Linked DNA regions of Homo sapiens: region 1 is linked to region 2. The links come from fine-mapping of genetic effects on plasma protein levels. A gene starts in region 2. The other region holds a variant in brackets. All regions are shown on one strand. Distances are between the middles of the regions.

Evidence for each region. PIP is the chance, under the fine-mapping model, that this variant and not a neighbour inherited with it causes the effect. Protein levels are from the aptamer-based SomaScan assay of Sun 2018.
Region 1: its variant is fine-mapped to the plasma level of the GFRA2 protein (Sun 2018, PIP 0.95).

What each region holds. Positions count from the first base shown.
Region 1 is chr8:21,687,986-21,697,636 of GRCh38, reverse strand. GFRA2 (GDNF family receptor alpha 2) reads left to right here. Exons shown (of 9, transcript NM_001495.5): 8 at 3,120-3,173; 9 at 4,237-7,239. The coding sequence ends at 4,359. Among named protein-coding and RNA genes, the nearest start is that of GFRA2, 96 kb to the left of the region's middle. RefSeq lists an enhancer at 4,318-4,818. The variant T/G (reference allele first, on the strand shown) is at 4,381.
Region 2 is chr8:21,784,295-21,793,871 of GRCh38, reverse strand. GFRA2 (GDNF family receptor alpha 2) reads left to right here and starts at 4,997. Exons shown (of 9, transcript NM_001495.5): 1 at 4,997-5,752. The coding sequence starts at 5,713.

The DNA.
Region 1 (9,651 bases), 96 kb after region 2:
TTTCTCTATTAGAGTATGAGCCCCTGGAGGGCAGGGAGGCACTGAATTTGAGACACTGGTGGTTTTGGCATCAGAGGTGGTCTCTCTTTCTCTCTGCCCCTCCCGCCACTAGGTGCCACCTTCAGGAAAGGTCAGCTGCTGGGCAACACTCCCACCCAAGGGCCCTGTTGCCCCTGGCAGAGACCACACCTTGGGGCAGATGTCCCTTGGGATGGCCCAGGGAGGTGTTTCACTGTCCCCTGATAATCAGCATCAGATGAGAGGGTACAGTGGTTGTCCTCAGCCCTCTTGCCTCCCCCTTTATTCTCTCCCCTGCCCTCTGTTGCCTCCTTCCTCTATTTCTTCCCTCTGTCTTCTGTTCCTCTGTCCCCTCCCCTCCTGCTATCTTTCTCCCTCAGCTTCCTCCCCTTACCATGCCCTCCCCTCCCCTTTCCGTTTGTCCCCTCTCCCTCTCCTCTGTCCCCTCCCCTATCCTCTGTCCCTTCCCCTCTCCCTCTGTCCCCTCCCCCTTCTCTCCCCTCCCCTCTCCTCTGTCCCTTCCCCTTTCCTCTGTCCCATCTACCCTCCTCGGTCCCCTTCCCTCTCCTCTGTCTCCTCCCCTCTCCTCTGTCCCTTCATCTCTCCCTCTGTCCCCTCTCTCTTCTCTCCCCTGCCCTCTCCTTTGTCCCTTCCCCTTTCCTCTGTCCCCTCCCCCTTCCTCTGTCCCCTTCCCTCTACTATGTCCCCTCTCCTCTCACTCTGTCCCCTCCCCCTCTTCCTCTTTCCTGTTTCCATTTCTCTGCTTCTCCCTTCACCTGGTTTCCTCTCTTCCTTCCACCCCTTTCTTCACTCTCCTCTTCTCTGTCATTTTTCCTGTGTAATACTTGCCAGTGTCCCCTCCACTCTATCCTATTTAAGAGGAACTTGTCAAGTTCTGCTCACTCCGAGGAGCAAAGTCCAGTTGCAGGCCCCCTTTGCTCTCTGGAGCGTCGGCCTTTAGATCCTCTCTCTCCACACCTGGCCAAGCTCCCAGGCCAGGGAAAATGCACTTGGTGTGTGCTGGTTGCTTTGCCAGCTGCTCTGCATGGGCTGACCTCGGGTGTAACCCTGCAGAGTGTCTAGGTCCGGGGCTCCCCTGAGAGTGGCACCCACAGCCACAGCACATTGTGCAGGCCCCACCCTGGGGCCCTTCTTGTCGGTTGTTTTCTCAAGCCTTATTTTGTTAAGCAGTAGACTATTATCCAAACAATTTTATGCGTACCTCCAATATACAAATAAGCTAAGACTCCAATATACAAAACAGCTAAGACTCCAATATACAAAACAAATAAAAATGGAGCTGTTATGGTGGATGGGGGTGAGGATCTTGAGTGCAGGGAGCTTCTGCCTCTGTGATTCCCCATGGGCTCCACTGGTTTAGTGAGGAAAGGGGAGGGGACAGAGGAGAGGGGAGAGGACAGAGGGAGAGGGAGAGGGGAGGGGAGAAAGAGGGAAAGGGGACAGAGGGAGAGGGGACAGAGGGAGAGGGGAGGGGACAGGAAAGGAGGAGGGGACAGAGGAGGGGGAGGGGAGAGAGGGGGGAGGGGACACAGGAGATGGGGAGGGGACAAAGGAGAGGGCTCCCAATGGTTTAGTGAGCTCTGTTGGGGGTAGGGATGTAGGGATAAGACATGGACTCCCAGAAAGGGCGGGGACTGGCCTGCCACACCTGAAACAATGAGAGTAGGAAGTGACGCTGGGTGTCCGTAGGTGTCAGGCCACAGGCACAGACTCCAACAAGCCATAGGATGTCACAAGTAGGGACTGAGGTGACTGAGCAAGGATTGGCCAAGGGACTCGGGAGGACAGATGCGAGGCCATTATGACAGCACAGCCTCTGAGGGGGTGGGCGTGTTCTTTTTCCCTGACACCCTTCCCCGTGGCCTCACAGTCTTAGCTGGAACAGCACCAAGTCCTGGGGAGTGGAGTCCAGGCCTTGGGTCTGGAAGAGTTGTCGAGCACGTGCCCTTCTGCAGAGGGCAACAGCTGGGGAGTTGGCTGGGCATCACCTTGGCACCTGGGGACACTCCTGGTTCCATTCTCGCTGTGCTAATCATCACCGTGGTCCTATCTCCACCATTGGCAGTGACTCTACTCTTGGCCAGCGTCTCCATGTGACAGCTGGGGTCTTGTTTAGCTGACCAGATGCCCTGGGTGGTAGATTGCCTGTGATGTCCAAGGGGTTATTGATACTTCTGGCCGAGGGCAGTGATTGCGGCATAATTTCTTGGGCTTCCCAGTTGCTTTTGGTGGCCAGAACTTCCCTGGAAGTGCCCTGGGAACAAGCCATTTGAATCCTGGATGGAAGCGCTGCATCCCCAGCTGGTTCCCATGGATCTCCATTACAGTGATGATAACAGAGGGCCGTTCATCATGTGCGCCCTCTGGCCCTGCATCCAGGTGGCCACACCAGGGTAGACAATCTTGGAATCATTACCAAGGCAGCCCTTCTCGTCCCTCACCTTGCCCACAGTGTTCCCAGGTGTGCACATCCGTGTAGGACAGAAATGGGCTGGTGCAGTTGCCAGATATCCACCTAATGGACCAGTGGCAGACATCACTAATCAATCATGCCTCTCTTCCCCTCAAGCCCAGATGAATGCTCATGATCTTTTTATATAGAGCCCTCCATCAGCCATGGCAAATTAACAGGAGTTGGCTCTTGGAGGCTGTTTATGATCTGTGACATTCATTCATTCATTCATGGATGCAGGCATCTAGTGAAACATTTGTTGAGTTGTTGTTATGAACCAGACACTGCTCAGTGTGAGGAAAAGAAGACATGGTCCCTGCCCAAGAGTTGCGCTGAGTATATGGACAGACATGCGAATGGCTGATGACTATATAATGCCGCTAGTTGGGAGCAGAGTTAGAACTCTGTTCTCCAGGAGCCAGAGGAGTCGGGTCCTAATTGCTGAGGGTGTCAGAGAAGGGCAGAAGCCTTTTGTGCTGGGTGGAATTGAGCTACCCTCTTCACCGTGTGCGCTGGCTGTGCTTAGCGGAGCCAACAGTGCATGGCGGGGCCTCATCTAAGTCTCTGGACAAAGCCCAGCCAGGAACAGCCTGGTGACTCGTCCTGACTGGCACCTTCTCTCTCGCAGGAGCAGGGGCTGAAGGCCAACAACTCCAAAGAGTTAAGCATGTGCTTCACAGAGGTGAGTTGGGGGCAGAGTGGGGATGGGTGCAGAAGGCTGGGCCGGTGGGGGGCGGCATTTCCCCGGCGAGCCTCAGATCCAGCGCCCTCAAATCTCATCGCATGGGCTGGGCCAGCTGAGCTTCTGGACCAGGGTGGGCACTTACTCTGCTGGGGTGGGGTGGGGGAGTGCGAAGGCTGCATCCAGGGCCCCTGGCTCTCTCCTTGGGGAGAGACAAATGGCTGCTCTGAGCAGAGGCCCTCCCATGCCTTCCTTACTCTCTTAAGACAGTTGTGTCGACCACCTGCTCGGCACTGTTGCTGTGATATTTAGGAGGCACAGAAGTGGAAACAGACACAGTTCTTCCCTTGAAGAAACCCCCACTATAGGAAATATATATATATATAAAAATAAATAAATATATATATAAATATATATATATCTCATATATATGACGTATATATAAATATATATATCTCATGTATATGACGTATATATATATATGACTTATAGACCCAAGACAGTAACTTAGATGAGAAGAAAAGGCAGTGTGAGACCTCACAGAAGAAAGAGAAACTCAGACAAAGATGTTCAGGGAGGGCTTCATGGAGGAGTGGGGATTGGAAGAAATTGAGAAACAGGGCGAATGTGGGCTCCCTTGTCTCCCCTCCCCTCCCCTTCCCTTCCTCTCTCCTTCCCCTCTCCTTCCTCTCTCCTCTCCTTCTTCTTCTCTCCTCCTTCTTCAGCTCTTTATACCATCTGCCTCCTCACTGGGACGCAGGTCCTCAGCCCTGATGCAGGGAGGAGTAGCCTGTTATCCTGGTGACCACTGCCCTCCTCTCCAAACCCCAGGGCTTGTGACCAGAAGGGACAGAGCATTCCCTTCTGCTCCTGCCTGGGCCAGCTCCGGGAGAGTCAGCGCTCCCTTCAGAGTGCAAAGGAGGGTCCCTGTGGGTGGAAGAGAGGACAGGGGCTTGAGGTGTCCAGTTCCTGAGTCCGTTTCTCTGCCGGGTCCCAGGCCTCCTGACTGTTTTCTTTGTTTTCATTCTCTTTGTTCCTGATTCTTCTCCTGCTGCGGACTCAGCTCACGACAAATATCATCCCAGGGAGTAACAAGGTGATCAAACCTAACTCAGGCCCCAGCAGAGCCAGACCGTCGGCTGCCTTGACCGTGCTGTCTGTCCTGATGCTGAAACTGGCCTTGTAGGCTGTGGGAACCGAGTCAGAA[T/G]ATTTTTGAAAGCTACGCAGACAAGAACAGCCGCCTGACGAAATGGAAACACACACAGACACACACACACCTTGCAAAAAAAAAATTGTTTTTCCCACCTTGTCGCTGAACCTGTCTCCTCCCAGGTTTCTTCTCTGGAGAAGTTTTTGTAAACCAAACAGACAAGCAGGCAGGCAGCCTGAGAGCTGGCCCAGGGGTCCCCTGGCAGGGGAAACTCTGGTGCCGGGGAGGGCACGAGGCTCTAGAAATGCCCTTCACTTTCTCCTGGTGTTTTTCTCTCTGGACCCTTCTGAAGCAGAGACCGGACAAGAGCCTGCAGCGGAAGGGACTCTGGGCTGTGCCTGAGGCTGGCTGGGGGCAGGACAACACAGCTGCTTCCCCAGGCTGCCCACTCTGGGGACCCGCTGGGGGCTGGCAGAGGGCATCGGTCAGCGGGGCAGCGGGGCTGGCCATGAGGGTCCACCTTCAGCCCTTTGGCTTCAAGGATGGAGATGGTTTTGCCCTCCCTCTCTGCCCTCGGGTGGGGCTGGTGGGTCTGCAGCTGGTGTGGGAACTTCCCCACGGATGGCGGTGGAGGGGGTTCGCACCGTGCTGGGCTCCCCCTGACTGTAGCACGGAGTGTTGGGGCTGGGGGCCAGCTCCAGGAGGGCTTGAGAGCTCAGCCTGCCTGGGAGAGCCCTTGTGGCGAGGCATTAAAACTTGGGCACCAGCTTCTTTCTCGGTGGCAGAAATTTTGAAGTCAGAGAGAAACGGTCCTTTGTTGGCTTCTTTGCTTTCTCGTGGGTCCTTTGGCAGGCCTCCCTTTGGGGAGAGGGAGGGGAGAGACCACAGCCGGGTGTGTGTCTGCAGCACCGTGGGCCCTCAAGCTTTCCTGCTGTCTTCTCCCTCCTCCTCCTTTCCCCTTTCTCTTTCCTCATTTCCTAGACGTACGTCAACTGTATGTACATACCGGGGCTCCTCTCCTAACATATATGTATATACACATCCATATACATATATTGTGTGGTTTCCCCTTTCTTTCCTTTTTTTAAGCAACAAAACTATGGAAATAATACCCCAACAGATGAGCGAAAATGTATTATTGTAAAGTTTATTTTTTTTAATACTGTTGTCTATAATGGGGAAAAAGGACATTGGCCCCGCAGTGCCCTGCCCCAGTCAGCCTGGCTGGGCTCTGGTGGGGGCTCCTGATCCGCATCCAAGCTTAACCAAGGCTCCAATAAACGTGCTAGGAAGCAAGCTGCCTCTGCCTCGGTCCCGTGGGGTTTTGCCCCCATTTTGTTCTTGGTCCAGTGTTACCTGCGTAAGTGGAGCTCCCAGTGGGCTGGGGAAATGTGTGTCCGTGTGTGTGCCTGTGTGCATGTGTGTGCATCCATGTGTCTCACCCATGTGTCCACATTGTGTGTAGATGGAGCTCTCTTAGGAGCTGGTTTGACACTGGGGGCGGGATCTGAGGGTCCACGCTGTGCTGAGCCTGGTGGGCTGTTCTGTTCCCTCTTTGCTCACTTCTCCAGTTGGCGCAAATGCCTGTGGCTCCCAGGCTGGAAGAGAATGCAGTGGACGTGGACGTGGTGGGGAGCCACAGCTTGGCATCACACGTTGGGAATGTTTTATTGTCAGGCTGTCTGGGTGGCCCTGTTAGTCTTACATAGAGCAAAGTGGTATGTCCCTCTGGGACTCCTGGCTTATTTGAGATGTGTGATTGTGAGTGCAGTGACCTGGCCTTTTGGGTCCCACCAGAGAAGAAGGACATGACTGTGCATGTTCTGGGGTCATGGTCTGAAAGCATAAGTATTTTTTGGGTCTCCCTCTATTCCTTCCTTTCCTGTTTCTCCATTTGCTACCCAGGCCCCACTTGGACACTAGGCCTGCCATAGTCTCCAAGAGAGATTCTCCCCAGAGAGGACCAGGAGAATGCCTGCTGGCCAAGTGTGTGTGTGTCCATGTATGTGAGCATGTGTACATGTGTGTGCGGTCGTGTGCAGGCTCGCACATGTTCACGTGCACGTGTGAATATATACCCATGGCAGGAGGGAGAATGGAAGACTGGTAGGCGAGAAGATGTTTCTACTGTCAGCCTGGCCTTCAGGGCTGCATGTGAGCCCATCCCATTTCAACTGGACAATAGGATGCAGTTTTCCCATCTCCCAATCGCAGGTCCCCTCAATGGCTTTTGCTTCTGGTTGTATATGTGTGAGCAGCATCCGTTCACAGCGTTTATCACTGTGGTGTATTGCCTTCCAGCCTCTGCATGGAAGGGGTACAGTGAGCCAGCCAGGTCTCTGTCCAGCCATTGCGGGTAGACGTGGTCATGGCATCCACTTAGGAATCCGTGTTCTTTGCAAACAGCAAAGACCATTTAACTTAAAAAGTACTTTACTGGAAGGCTATGGGAGAAGGTGGCTCACGGAATTTGTGGGAGGTGGGGGGACCAGGGGAGGCGAGGGCAGGGACTGGAGGGCATCTGAGGGGCTGGAAGGCAGGATGTACAGGGTCAGCATTCTGCTGCCAACCATTGCCCATCTGGCTGAACTGGGCCTTGTGCCTGCCCTCTGCCATACTTGAGTGTGAGAGAGAGGATATATATGTCATGTCTGGTATCCCTAATAGGAGGTAAGCCCTTAGGCTACATCATGGGGGAGAGAAAATTTCCCAAGAGGAAACTGAGGTGCCATTATGAAGGAGGAGTGGATACTAGCTAGCTTTACTCTGCCCTCAAATGTCTCCCTATCCAAGTATCACATGGCTGAAATTTTACCATTAGGTATTCATTCCTTTGGTTGAGATGATTCCTATTTGTGATTCTCTCAAAATATGCAAATCGAACTAGAAGAATAAATTGTTGCTATCTTAATGTTAGTTAATTTAATGGTGTGAATGAATTCTAGTAACATTAAGACATTTGAGTCTAGACATTGAAATTGGGGTTGAGGGACCAAAAACAGGAAGTGAATCATGGAAAGTTTGGTAGGGACCACCAGAGATAGATTTTTTTTTTTTTTTGAGAGAGTCACACTCTCACCCAGGTTGGAGTGCAGTGGTGCGATCTCGGCTCACTGCAGCCTCTGTCTCCTAGGTTCGAGCGATTCTCGTGCCTCAGCCTCCCAAGTAGCTGGGATTACAGGTGTGTGCCACTATGCTTGGCTAATTTTTTTATTTTTTTTTGTATTTTTAGTATAGAGACAAGGTTTCGCCACGTTGGCCCGGCTGGTCTCGAACTCCTGACCTCAAGTAATCTGCCTGCCTTGGCCTCCCAAAGTGCTGGGATTATAGGCGTGAGCCCCCAAGCTCAGCCACCAGAGACTGATTTCTAGATTTTCTTAGAGTTGCTGTGGGAGACTGCAGACACATGCAATCCAGGGCCCTGTGCCTTTACCCCCTAGTCAGCAAAGTGTATAAAATTAGCTTTTTTTTGCCACCAGCCCCCTGAGGATTCCTGATCAGGGGCATGCCTCTATCTGCAAGTCTGGCTCACTCCGTTTTCTAGGCTCTGATACCTTGTCAAGTGTGAAGTCATATAGGTGGCCAATTCAGAAGCTCAGGATTGAGTGAGCAGTGCCGCAGGTCCCACGTTGACCCACGGTGGTCCTCACAGCAGGGCGCCTACCTGGTATCAAGACCAAACACAGGGTCGTCACCTTAGTTCCTGGCACCCCAGGCCCTGCCTTTGCTATCGGCTTGGCACACAGGTTTCCCAGAACGGGGCTCAGCCCTGCATTTGCTGGTCCTGCCTTGACGGGGATGCTTAGGCTGAGGAGGTGCCCTGCTGTTTCCCACAGACCTTCCTGATGGTGGTCCTAGGCCTGCCAGGATGGACATCTTTGGCCAATCTGGACTTTCGCCCATGACTCGCCTGCTCACTGAGGAGCCCACCGGGTCTCTGGTTTAGCCTCCCAGTGTCGGCTGCCTGCTGGTTCCTGCCTCTGAGGGTCTCATAGCCCATCTGCTATGGCTTCATGCCAAAGGGGCTTGTGTGTGTGTGTGTGTGTGCGTGTGTGTGTGTGTGTGTGCGTGTGTGTGTGTGTGCGCACACACCCATGGCTTCACTTCTGCCAAAGGGGCTTTGTGTGAATGTGTTTGTGTGCATGCACCGATGGCTTCACTTCATGCTGAAGGGGCGTGTGTGTGTGTGTGTGTGTGTGTGTGTGTGCGTGTGCATCCATACATATGCACCTGTCTCTAGTTCCCAGCCACAGACTGTCGAATGCCTAAGATGAAGACTTTCCTTTACTCATGAGGATTGAAGCCCCAGTGTTCCCTGCCAGCTGGAGAAATTCTTTACCAGCATTTTCTGATCTGTGAAGTGAGTTGAAATTGGGCTGCCCCTCCCAAGGATGCTGAGGCTGGTCACTTACTGCATATTTTAAAAAATTTGTGTATTTATTTAAATATTTTTATTATTATTTTTTGAGACAGGGTCTCATTCTTTTGCCCAGGCTGGAGTGTGGTGGTGTGATCATAGCTCACTGCAACCTCAGGCTCCTGGGTTCAAGTGATCCTCTCACCCTAGACTCCTAAGTAGTTGGAACTACAGGTGTGTGCCACCACACCCTATTCATTTTATTATTTGGTAGAGATGGAATCCCACTATGTTGCCCAGGCTGATCCTAATTGTCTGGCCTCAAGGGATCCCCTGCTTCAGTCTCCCAAAGTCTGAAATTACAGGTGTGACCCACCCATGCTCCTGGCCCATACTGTGTTAATACAAGTAAACAGATTCATCGCCTGTTTGTTGCCCATTTTTTTAGAGTCTTAGTAGGGGTAGATAATCTTTTTTTTTTTTTTTTTTTTTTTTTTTTTGGCTGGAGTGCAGTGGTGCGATCTTGCCTCACTGCAACCTCTGCCTCCCAGGTTCAAGCGATTCTCCTGCCTCAGCCTCCCAAGTAGCTGGGATTACAGGCACCTGCCACCACACCCAGCTAATTTTTGTAAATTTTGTTTTTTTAGTAGAGATGGGGTTTCGGCATGTTGGCCAGGCTGGTCTTGAACTCCTGACCTCAGGTGATCCACCCACCTCTGCTCTCAAAGCGCTGGGATTACAGGCATGAGCCACCGTGACTGGCCCATTCATCTTTTAAAAATGGATTAAATTTTTTAGGAAAATCCAAAGTCATTTAGAAGCCAAACTGGTAAATAAGGTTGATGACATTCTCTGTGGTGGGTTTACATGGTGGAATGGCTGCCTTCTAGTCATTTACGGTGACTTTCAGGCAATCTTGTTCAATCTTGGTTGCCTCACCTACAAAATTGTATTGGATGATTCAAGTACTT
Region 2 (9,577 bases):
AAAAACTTTGATTCTCATGATTTTTTTCACACTATTTGTGGATAGGGAAGGGAGGAAGAGGATATCTTAGGTGTTGTGAAGGGGAATATGAACATGTGTGGGCCTGGAGAGCCGCCACTTTTCTTGTCCGATACAAGGCACAGAATTGACCAGTTGGGGGTGCTGGATCCTGACTGCCCGAGTTTGAATCCAGATTCTGCCACTTAAAATATGACCTTGGGCAGTTGAATCACTTCTCTTGCCTCTCCTCTCTCACTTGAAAATGAGGCTATTAATAGTACCTAATAATAGCCATCGAGTTATTATAGGAATTTGAAGGAGTATTAACTTGTATCTAGCCATAAATTTGGCTACTTTAATTATTATTTTTCCAAGGACAAAGGCTGAGCCGCTAGGCTGGTCACTTTGTCTTGGCCTGGCGACTCTCCCTGTGTTCCAGCATCATGCCAATTCATCCTTACACTGCCTCTGACAACCCTCTCCCTCTGTCCACGCCCACTGCCACTCCCTGTTGGACCCTCATTACCTCTGCCTGGGACTGTTACAATCACCTCCTAATTGGCCCCTGGTCTCCATCCCTCACACAGTCATCAGATCAATCTTCCTAAAACATTATTCTCATCATGTCAGTTGCCTGCTCAAAAACCTTCAGCGGCTCCTGGTGCATGAATCTGAAGACTGCAAGGCTTGGTTCTTCTCCACTTGAGCACCCCAATTGGACCCTCTAGTTCTTCCCCAACCTGTGCACTTGGCTCCTCCCACCCACTGGATTGTTCCTTTCCTGAGAACTTTCTCTTTTTTTTTTGAGGCAGGGTCTCGCTCTGTTGCGCAGGCTGGAGTGCAGTGGTGCCATCTCGACTCACCGCAACCTCTCCCTCCCAGGTTCACGTGGTTCTCCTGCCTCAGGCACTCGAGTAGCTGGGACTACAGGTGTGCGCCACCGCACCTGGATATGTTTTTTGTATTTTTTGCAGAAACGGGGTTTCACCATGTTGGTCAGGCTGGTCTGGAACTCCCGACCTCAGGTGATCTGCCCGCCTCTGCCTCCCAGAGTGCTGGGATTATAGGCATGAGCCACCACACCCAGCCTCCTGAGAACTTTCTAATCACTGTGCTCTTGCCTCTGCTGTTTGCTCACCTGGAGTGTCCTCCTCTGTGCTCAGCCAAATTCTACCCATCCTTCCAGCTCCAGCTTGAATCCTACCCCTAGCAAGTCCTCTCTGATTGCACTCCTGAAATCCAGTGGTACCAACTCTTCCTTTCTCCCACTGTGCCTTTGTTTTTTTCAGTATCTTCTCATAGCTACACGCTTGACTCTATAAATGCTTTCAGGGGAGGGGCAGTCTTGCTGTATTCCCCACAGCCGTTGGCCCTGCTGGGGCCAGAGAAGTCGTTCAATAAGTCTGTGCTGATGGATTGATTGTGGGGTGCCCTGGATCAGGCTCTGTCCCATGGCAGAGGACACTTCCACCTTGCCAGTTCTGTGGCTCCTGACAGTATTAGCTGGATGTGAGGCACCTTCTTTTCACTCCTGGTCGATTTTTATCTCTGGGGTCAGGGAACCCTCAGCCTTCTTCCCTTCACAAAGGAATAAGATTGTGGTCAGTGAGCAGTGTGGCCCAGGCCTAGGTGCGCATGTGTGCGTGTGTTGGGGTGGGGCTGCAACGCCCTCCCCTCCACTGGTCCTTCTTCCCTCTCCTGCTATCCAGAGAACCCACTCCATAAGCAGAGAGGACTAGAGAGATAAGAGAAAGGGAAGGAATGGAAGGATTCGGTGTTGCCTTTCCCTCCCCATGCAGATTTGGACTCTAGGATCTGTGATGGGGAGGGGCTGTGGGCAGGAGGCTCAGCTGCTGGTGAACTCAGGAGCACTGGAATGAGCCAGGAAGGCTGTAAAAGGACTCAGGCACTACGGAATGTGTGGAAGTCTGTTGGTGAGCCTAGGGCTTGCCTCCTACCTGCTAGAGACTTCACATTTTCCTATGACTACCTCTTACGACAGCTGCTTAATAGTCTCTGTTGCCCTTGAACCCCTGTAGCTTTTTGTTTCTGCTTCTCATTTGCCCCTTAGGTTTTATTGCCTTGTCATAGGTCCCTAATTCTTCTTCTAGAACCCAGAGCAAAGCAGTAAACAACTTTATATGGGCCAGGCATTGTACTAGCCGCTTTGTGTAGTATCTTATGTAATTTCTACAACGTTGGTTTATCTTTTTTAATCCCCATTTTATAGATGAGATGACTGAGGTTCAGAAGTCCTCTTATCTATAAGGTGTTATAGTACATGTTCAACTGTGTTTCCTCTGTAGATCCCGGCACAAGGCAGGGGGTCTTCCTCATGGCAGATGCTCAGGAAATAAGGGATGATGCCATTTTTAAGAGCAGTTTGGGTTGAGTGTTGGGGTGGGCAGAGGGTGGGGTGTCATGGGATACGTCTGTATAGGCAGTAGGTAAGAGAGGGTCCAAGGTCAGAGTGCCCTGCAGTCACACAAGCTGAATGCTGGTGGTGACTGATTGGTGTTCTCTACTGTTCTTGGGATGGCTGGGTGGTCTTGGGTCGCAGAAGGGCCACTTACCTCCTGCTACCGGAATCCTCTTTCCTACTCCCGTGGGAGCTCAGTGAGAACCATCCCCAGGGCTTCATTGCTGCTTTCTCAGCCCCATTTTCTGGATAGGTGGGAGGGGAGAACTACATATATGATTCAGAGAATTTCTCTCATTATGCTCAAATGAAGTTAAAAGAAAGTGAAATTCTTTTTTGTGGGGAAGGGGAGAGGGATATGCTGAGCAGAAATTCTGGAGTTTGGAGCAGGGTCCTTGGAAGGGGGAAGGCCTGCGTGAGATTCCGAAATGGGTGGTGGTGGGGAGTATTTGGACAACCAGAAGACCCTGGAAGTCGAGGAGATGAGAGGGGGGACATTCATTTAGGCCAGGCTCCCAGCCTCGGGCCTCCAGGCCAAGCCTGCCTGGCAGTGTAATTCCTGTCAAGTTTTATCTTTTAACCTACACTTATCCAAAGCCGGTTCCTTATGCTCCCCAATTTTTGGAAAAAAAGCCAAGAGACCTTGTCAGATGCGAAGTCACTTCCTAGAACATGAGAGGCTTGGAGGAATGACAGGGAGGGCAGGCCTGAAGGGGGCTTTCCCCAACTCCAATCCCTAAGCCCTCTGTCCCAGACTCGTCACTACCCAGCTAGGGCCTAGGCTCGAAGCAGGCACAACTGGATGGCTGGGGGAGAAGATGGAGGGAGGAAGGTCGATGCCCCAGGACGGACCACAGGAAAGAGGCGTTCACAGGAGACTCGCTCTCTGTGCTTCCAAGGCCGGGAGCAGCCGCCTTCCCGCCTAAATCCTCAAGATGGAAGTTGCTCCCTCTAGCTTTCCCAATAGCTAAGGCTGCTGGTTTTGTTAGTGACCCCTCCCTTCTCGTCCAAGTCGATTTCTAGCATTTACTGGATTCCAGAGTCTTGTTATTTAAGAATGCATCTTAAACGGTACTATCAAATTCATGTTACGTGCAGCCCAGATTGTTTTGGGCAGCACGAAAAGTTTCTGAGGCGCTGCGTGTACCCCACCCCAGGACACCGTGTGTGCGCGCCGAGCTGAGTGCGAGGAACGTGGCGCGAGGGCCGGGGGATGCCGGGCTGCGTGGGTGTGAGCCCTCGCGCGACCGCGACCCCGCGCCTCTCCCGCTCTCGCCGGAACGTGACCGCAGCCGCACCTCTCCTCCAGCCCTTTCCCAGCCAGACGCTTCCTTTTAGGTCCTTCTGGGCGTTTATTGTAAATTCTGCGACTAAAACACGCCGGTGAGCCCGGCCCACCGACAGATGGATCAATCGCCCCCTTCCCGGCTAGGGGAGGAGGAACCCCCCAACCCCGGAGCCTAGGGAGCCGGGAGCTGCCTCGGGACGAGCTCCTCGGAGCCCAGCCGGCTGCGGAGCCCCGGCCCGGGTCGGTCTCGGGGCCCTCCTGCCGGGGTGGGGTGCGAGCCCCTGCCCGATTCCTCTGGGGCGGTTCAGGCAGGTTTGCCGGCCTCCGAGGAGGTGGTCAGGGCGCCCTGGCCCAGCAGGCTTCTTCCCGAGCCGGGGGGAGGGGAGACCGGCTGGGGAAGGGGCATCTCGAAGGGGTGGAGGCCGGGGCGGGCGGGAGGCAAGCGCGCCGCGGGCGTGAGGGCAAAGTTCCCGAGGTCCGCGCGGAGAGCACACGTGTATGTGCGCGCGGGGCTAGGCCGGGGCCGGCAGGATGCGTTGGGTTCGGGGGCGCGCGGGGCCGGCGCCGAAGGGGATAATTCCTTTCCCTGGCACCATCGGGGAGACGCTTTGTCGGCCTCGGCTCCTGGGCGCAGGGACGCCTTAGCCCACGGAGGGTGGAGCCCCCCTCAGACCCGGGCCACCGGCTGGGGTTTTTCTAACGCCCTGCCCCCCGAGCCCCCGGATGGCTCGGGCCCCACGGACTCCGCGCCCTCCAGCCTCAGCTCAGCTCCCCAGGCTTCCCAGACCCAGCGGCGCAGGGGGCGGGGGCAGGGGCAGTGGGGGTTGGAGGGCGCAGCCGGTCCCCAGGGTGGGGAGAGCTGCGGGGGGAGGAGGAGGAGGGTGCCGACGCTTGAGTGGGTTCGAGCCCGAGCCGTAGCCGGGGGAGCCAGTCAGTTTCCGGCCAAGGCAGCAGGTCAGTCCCAGGAAGGGCGGGCGATTGAGCCGAGGGAGCCGGCGGCTGGGCTCTCCTCTCGGCCCGCGATCCCCGGCGCCGCCGCCGCCGCCACCGCCACCGCCACCGCCTTCGCCTTGTCGCCGCCGCCGCTGCAGAGCATCGTAGCTCCGCCGCGCTCCCGCGCCCCGCGCCCCGCGCCGCCAGCCGCCTGGGAGCCCGAGCGCCGAGCCCGGGGCGGAGGAGAGGGGCGCTGGCGCGAGAGCCCGGGCGAGGGAGCCGCGAAGGGAGAAGGGGGCGGGCGGAGGGAGGAGCAGGGAGAGTGGGAGAAGGGGGAGGGAGAGAGGAGAGCGAGGGAGAGCTGGAGAGAGCGAGAGCAAAGAGCGAGCGAGGGAGAGGAGAGAGAGAGAGAGGAGAGAGAAAGACACACGCACGCAGAGACACACGGTCACTGGAATTCCATTAGAAAAAAGTGAGCCGAGCAAGGGTTAGCGGGAGAAGATTTTTTTGAATCTTGTCTTCGTCTTGGTGCGAAAGAAGCGACTCCAGTCTCTCGTCCTCGAAGCTCCGACTGGATTGTTCTTGGGCGCTGACACCCGTCTGTGGATTTCTTTTCTATTTGCATTTTATTCCGACCCCCTCCCTCGCCGCTTCCTTCCAGCCCTTCACTCGCAAATCGCCTCTCTCCCCACCTCCCCAGGCCCCTCCTGGGAAGCGCAGGGGAATTGGACCCGCGGGGACTCACGCCTTCCCGGACGATTGGAGGGGAGGGCTGACCCCAGGACTGGGCTGTTGGCTTAGAAAGCCGATACACAGATACGCGTATATTTGATTGTAGCGGGCAAGGGGGGCGTCGAGAGGCAGCAGCCCATCGCCCGCCTCTCACCCCACCCCCTCCAGCCAGAGGCGAGAATCGCAGGACTCGGGATCTTCATCGGGTGGACTAGCTGGGATCTCCGCATTGGATTTGGGGCTGATTACCACTGCTTGCCTATTATTATTGTTGTTGTTACTACTATTATTTTTTTTTACCCAAGGGAGAAAGACAAAAAAACGGTGGGATTTATTTAACATGATCTTGGCAAACGTCTTCTGCCTCTTCTTCTTTCTAGGTGAGTACCTGCGGGCGGCGAGCTCGAGGGGGAGGCGAGAAGCCGGGGAGGCGGGGGGCGAGCGGAGCGCCGGTGGGGGGCTGGCGGGAGGTCGGCGGGGAGAGCGCGCCGCGGAGCTAGCCGGGCCCGGTGCTGGCGAACCGAGCGGGGCCGGGCGGCAGGGACGCGGACGAGGGACCGGAGCCGCGGCTGGCTGGCGACGCAGGGGGATCGGGAGGGAGACTCAACATCCGAACCAGCCCCGCAGACACTGTGCACGCACACACACACCCGCGCTCGCTCACACGCCAGTATAGCGCGCATCTCCCCCGAAATAATGGGTTCGAATTGCGGCAACTTAAGAAAAAAAAATATCCAACTCTTGATCTGCAAGAAGGGAGGGAGAGAGAGGCTCCTAGGCGGGGAGAGAACAGTCCTGCGGGGTCCGCCTTTCCTGGTCTGCTCCCCGAGTCGGTCGTGGTGGAGGGCGCGGGTTTCTCCGGCGGCTCCCGCTTGGACATCGCGCGGGGAGCGCTGGCAGTCACTCCCCACCTGCCAGCCGCGCCTGGCAAACGGAGCCCGCGTCCCCACGCCCTGAGCCCCTAACCGGCGGCTCCACTCCCCGGAACACTTTTCAAGTTTCTCCCCACCGAGCCCCGAGCCAGATGGGTGGGCGGGAGCGGAGGGTTGTGAGCAGCCGTTCCCGGCCTTCCCTCCTCCACCTCTGGGGGCCGCGGACCCCCGTGGCTGGTGGGAAGAGGCGGGAGGGAGGCCAAAGTTTGCTTTCTCCGTTGAAGAGGGTGGGAGGCGAGGGAGGAAAAACGGGTCTGAACAAAGACCACTGCTCCTTCTGCAAACCCCCCCCACTGCCCCCCCCGCCGCCTCCAAGACAGGGAGGAGAGGCTGCCTGGCGCCACTGAGCCCCACGCAGTTTCTTTTCCACACAGAATTCCCAGCTCCTCTCTCCCTTTAAAGCTAGGTGAAATCGCAGCTGCTTGGGAAATGGCAATCTCCGGAGGGAGGTGAGGAAAGGCGGTTGTTTGCAAGGCTGTGCACCACCGGGAGTCCCAGGCAGGGCTGCTGCCAGGGAGTAGACGCTCCCATAGAGGGAGCCGGGTAACTACTGTGTATGTGTGTGTGTGTGTGAGTGTGTTTGTAAGGAGCACACGTCTGCTTCAGTGAGGGTGTAGTTCTACCACCTTGGCTTGCTGTGTAGCCAGTGTTGAGCCAGGCTGCCCAGCGGGGTCATGATCTCACCCTCTCCCTCCTGCAGTAGGGGATCTGGGAAGGCCACGAGTGGGGAGGTAGGAGCTGGTTACAGGAGGATGTGCGTGGTCTAAGAAGTGCTCGCCAGACTAGGATAGGGGACCGGAGTCATTGGGTGTCCACACAGGCTCTGGACTCTCTGCCTGTCCCCTCTGCTTCCCGCCAGGTGCGAGTCCCCAAGGGGGCAAGTCCCTGCTCTAGGGTGTGGCCTCAGAGGTCCTACCTCCCTCAGCCAGAGGCAGCTTCTCTCTGGGGTGGGAGGGGCTCCTCTAGGAAGCTGGAAGTTGCTCTGGGCCCGCTGTGATCCCGAAGCCCTTCCTGTCAACCCTGGCAAGTGGACTCTCATTCTGAAGGGGCTACTATAAAATCTGACCTTTTTCTCCCACTGCTAGCTTGAAAACCCAGCCTTCTGGGTCCAAGCATGATCAGGGCCAAGGTGAAAAAAAAATTGTATTTCAGGCAAAACAGCCAGATTGCCTACTGCTGAGCTGCATACCCCAGCATGGGCAGGGCTCCCAGGTGTGGGCACCATCTGTGGTCGGGGGCTGGAGAAGAGCAGTGTGGGCCCCTGGTCATTGCAGGCAGGCTTTCTCCAGCCGGGCAGGCTAAGGAGTCCACCTTTCTCCTTTTCAGAAGTGGCTGGGGTTCCTGCTCGTGGTGGGTGTGTATGTGTGTGCATGGGAGATGACCAGAGAGGCCCAACCCAATGTCTGCAACCCTGGAGGCTGAGTGTTGAGAGGCGGGGGTGAGAGCAGAAGAGCAGCAGGCTCAGCATCCCCTTGCTCCACAGCCCTTCAGTTTCCTTCCCTCGAGAAGTCCCCTTCTAAAGCTGGGCTGAGTGGAGTGACCACAGATACTGAAAGGCTTTGGGTTAGGCCAGTGGAAAGGAAGGGATGGGTTGGTGTTTAGGAAACTTCAGCCCTGGGGCCCTTTTCCTGGCAGGAAGCTGGTTGAAAATCCCACTGGGTGGGTGGGTGGAGGGTCGGGGGAGGTTTTTCTGGGGCTTGAGACTTGGTGGGCAATTTCAGCTGGGGGCAAAGGCCTTTGGTGTGCCCCTACTGAGATTCTGAGTGAGGTCTGGGCTGGATAACCCATGGTGGAGAGAGAGGCCTTTCTTGCCCAGTATCTTGACCTCCAGTGCTGACCCAGGGAGAGAAGGAGAAGGGGAAAGTGACTCGGGTGGGGGTGTTGGGCTGGCCAGAGGGGGCCACTTCCGACTGACTTTCTAGCACACATTCTAGCTCTGGTGGGATGTTGGATGCAGTAGGGCAATTGTAGCCCTGTGTCGCTTCTCCACCCCCCTCTACCCCTGTGTCTCTAGCAGCTACTCCCTGTGTCTTGATGGATCAAAGTTTTCTCCTAATTTAGGATTTGGAAACATCACCAGGACACCCCCTGCCCTTCACTCTCTTAGGATTCTTAGCTAAAGGCTGCAGGCTGCAGGGATTCCTTTCTCTGGCTGGGCTTGATTGGTTCTGGGGGTCATGGAATGAACTAGAAGAGTCAAGGATGGTTTGGTGAATGGATGCCCCGGCCCTTCGCAGAGTGTGTCTGTTGCCTGGCCACACGTGCCAGGTGGCAGGATGGGGGAAGCCCTCAGTTCTGGCACGGGAGCCTCCCTAAGATTGTGTAAGGATCATCCTGTGGGGCTCTAGGCCCAACTGTAGGACAAGCAAAAAAAGCGTCCTTATGCCCTGAATCCCCTGGGCTAATCTTCTGACCTTTAAGCACGCGGTGAATTCTGTGCCTACAGAAGGCTAAGGAAGCCAGGAAGTTCCATTTCCAGGCCCCCATGACAGTGCAGCCTTCAGTTCAGTCAAGGTGGGAGGGCATTAGCCTATGGGGAGGCGGGGTGGTTAAGTCAGTGGAGGGCCCAGGGTTATATTCTTCCAGAGGCTCCCACGGGCTGGCTGGGGGCCGCAGGTACAGGCGGGGCCGTGTCAACTCAGCTGCTCTTGGGGGGCCCGGCTGTACGCGGGTCCTGCTCAGGGAGGTAGGAATCTGCTGAAGCCGGGGAAGAAAGACGCTGCCTCAGCTTGTGTGGAGGACAGCTCTCCAGCCAGTGCCGGGCCTCAAACTCCGGTCTGATTTCTTCTCTGGTCTTGTCTCAGCCTGGCCACATCCATCAGCCTTCCTGTTCTGTGGCAGAGGTCTGGTCAGTGGGAGAAGGGCACGTCTTTTGCTCTGGGCCCCGAAGAAGCCTTCTGTACCCCAGGCCCATCCCTGCTGTTCTTCTCTGTTGTCCCCTAGGGATGGGTCTCCTGGCTGGTCCCACCGGGAGTGGATGGATTCCTGTTCTCTGGGGGCTCTCGGGAGCGAAGGCCCGCTGTGCAGCGCGCTGCCTTTAGGTGTCGCTGTCTCCCTGCGGTAGCGCTCCCCTGAGCAGGGCCTCCCGGGGGATGGCCTGAGAGTGGCTGTTCTGGGTAGGGATGGGGAATTCTGCGGTATTGAGGAGGGGACTTCTGGCCTAGGATTTTATTATGTTCTGAGGCGAGATGGAGTCGAGGAAGCCTCCCAAATTACTCTTTCGGTCCAGGAAAGGGCAGTCATGGCTCTGGGCCATGGTGCGGGCTTTTCCTG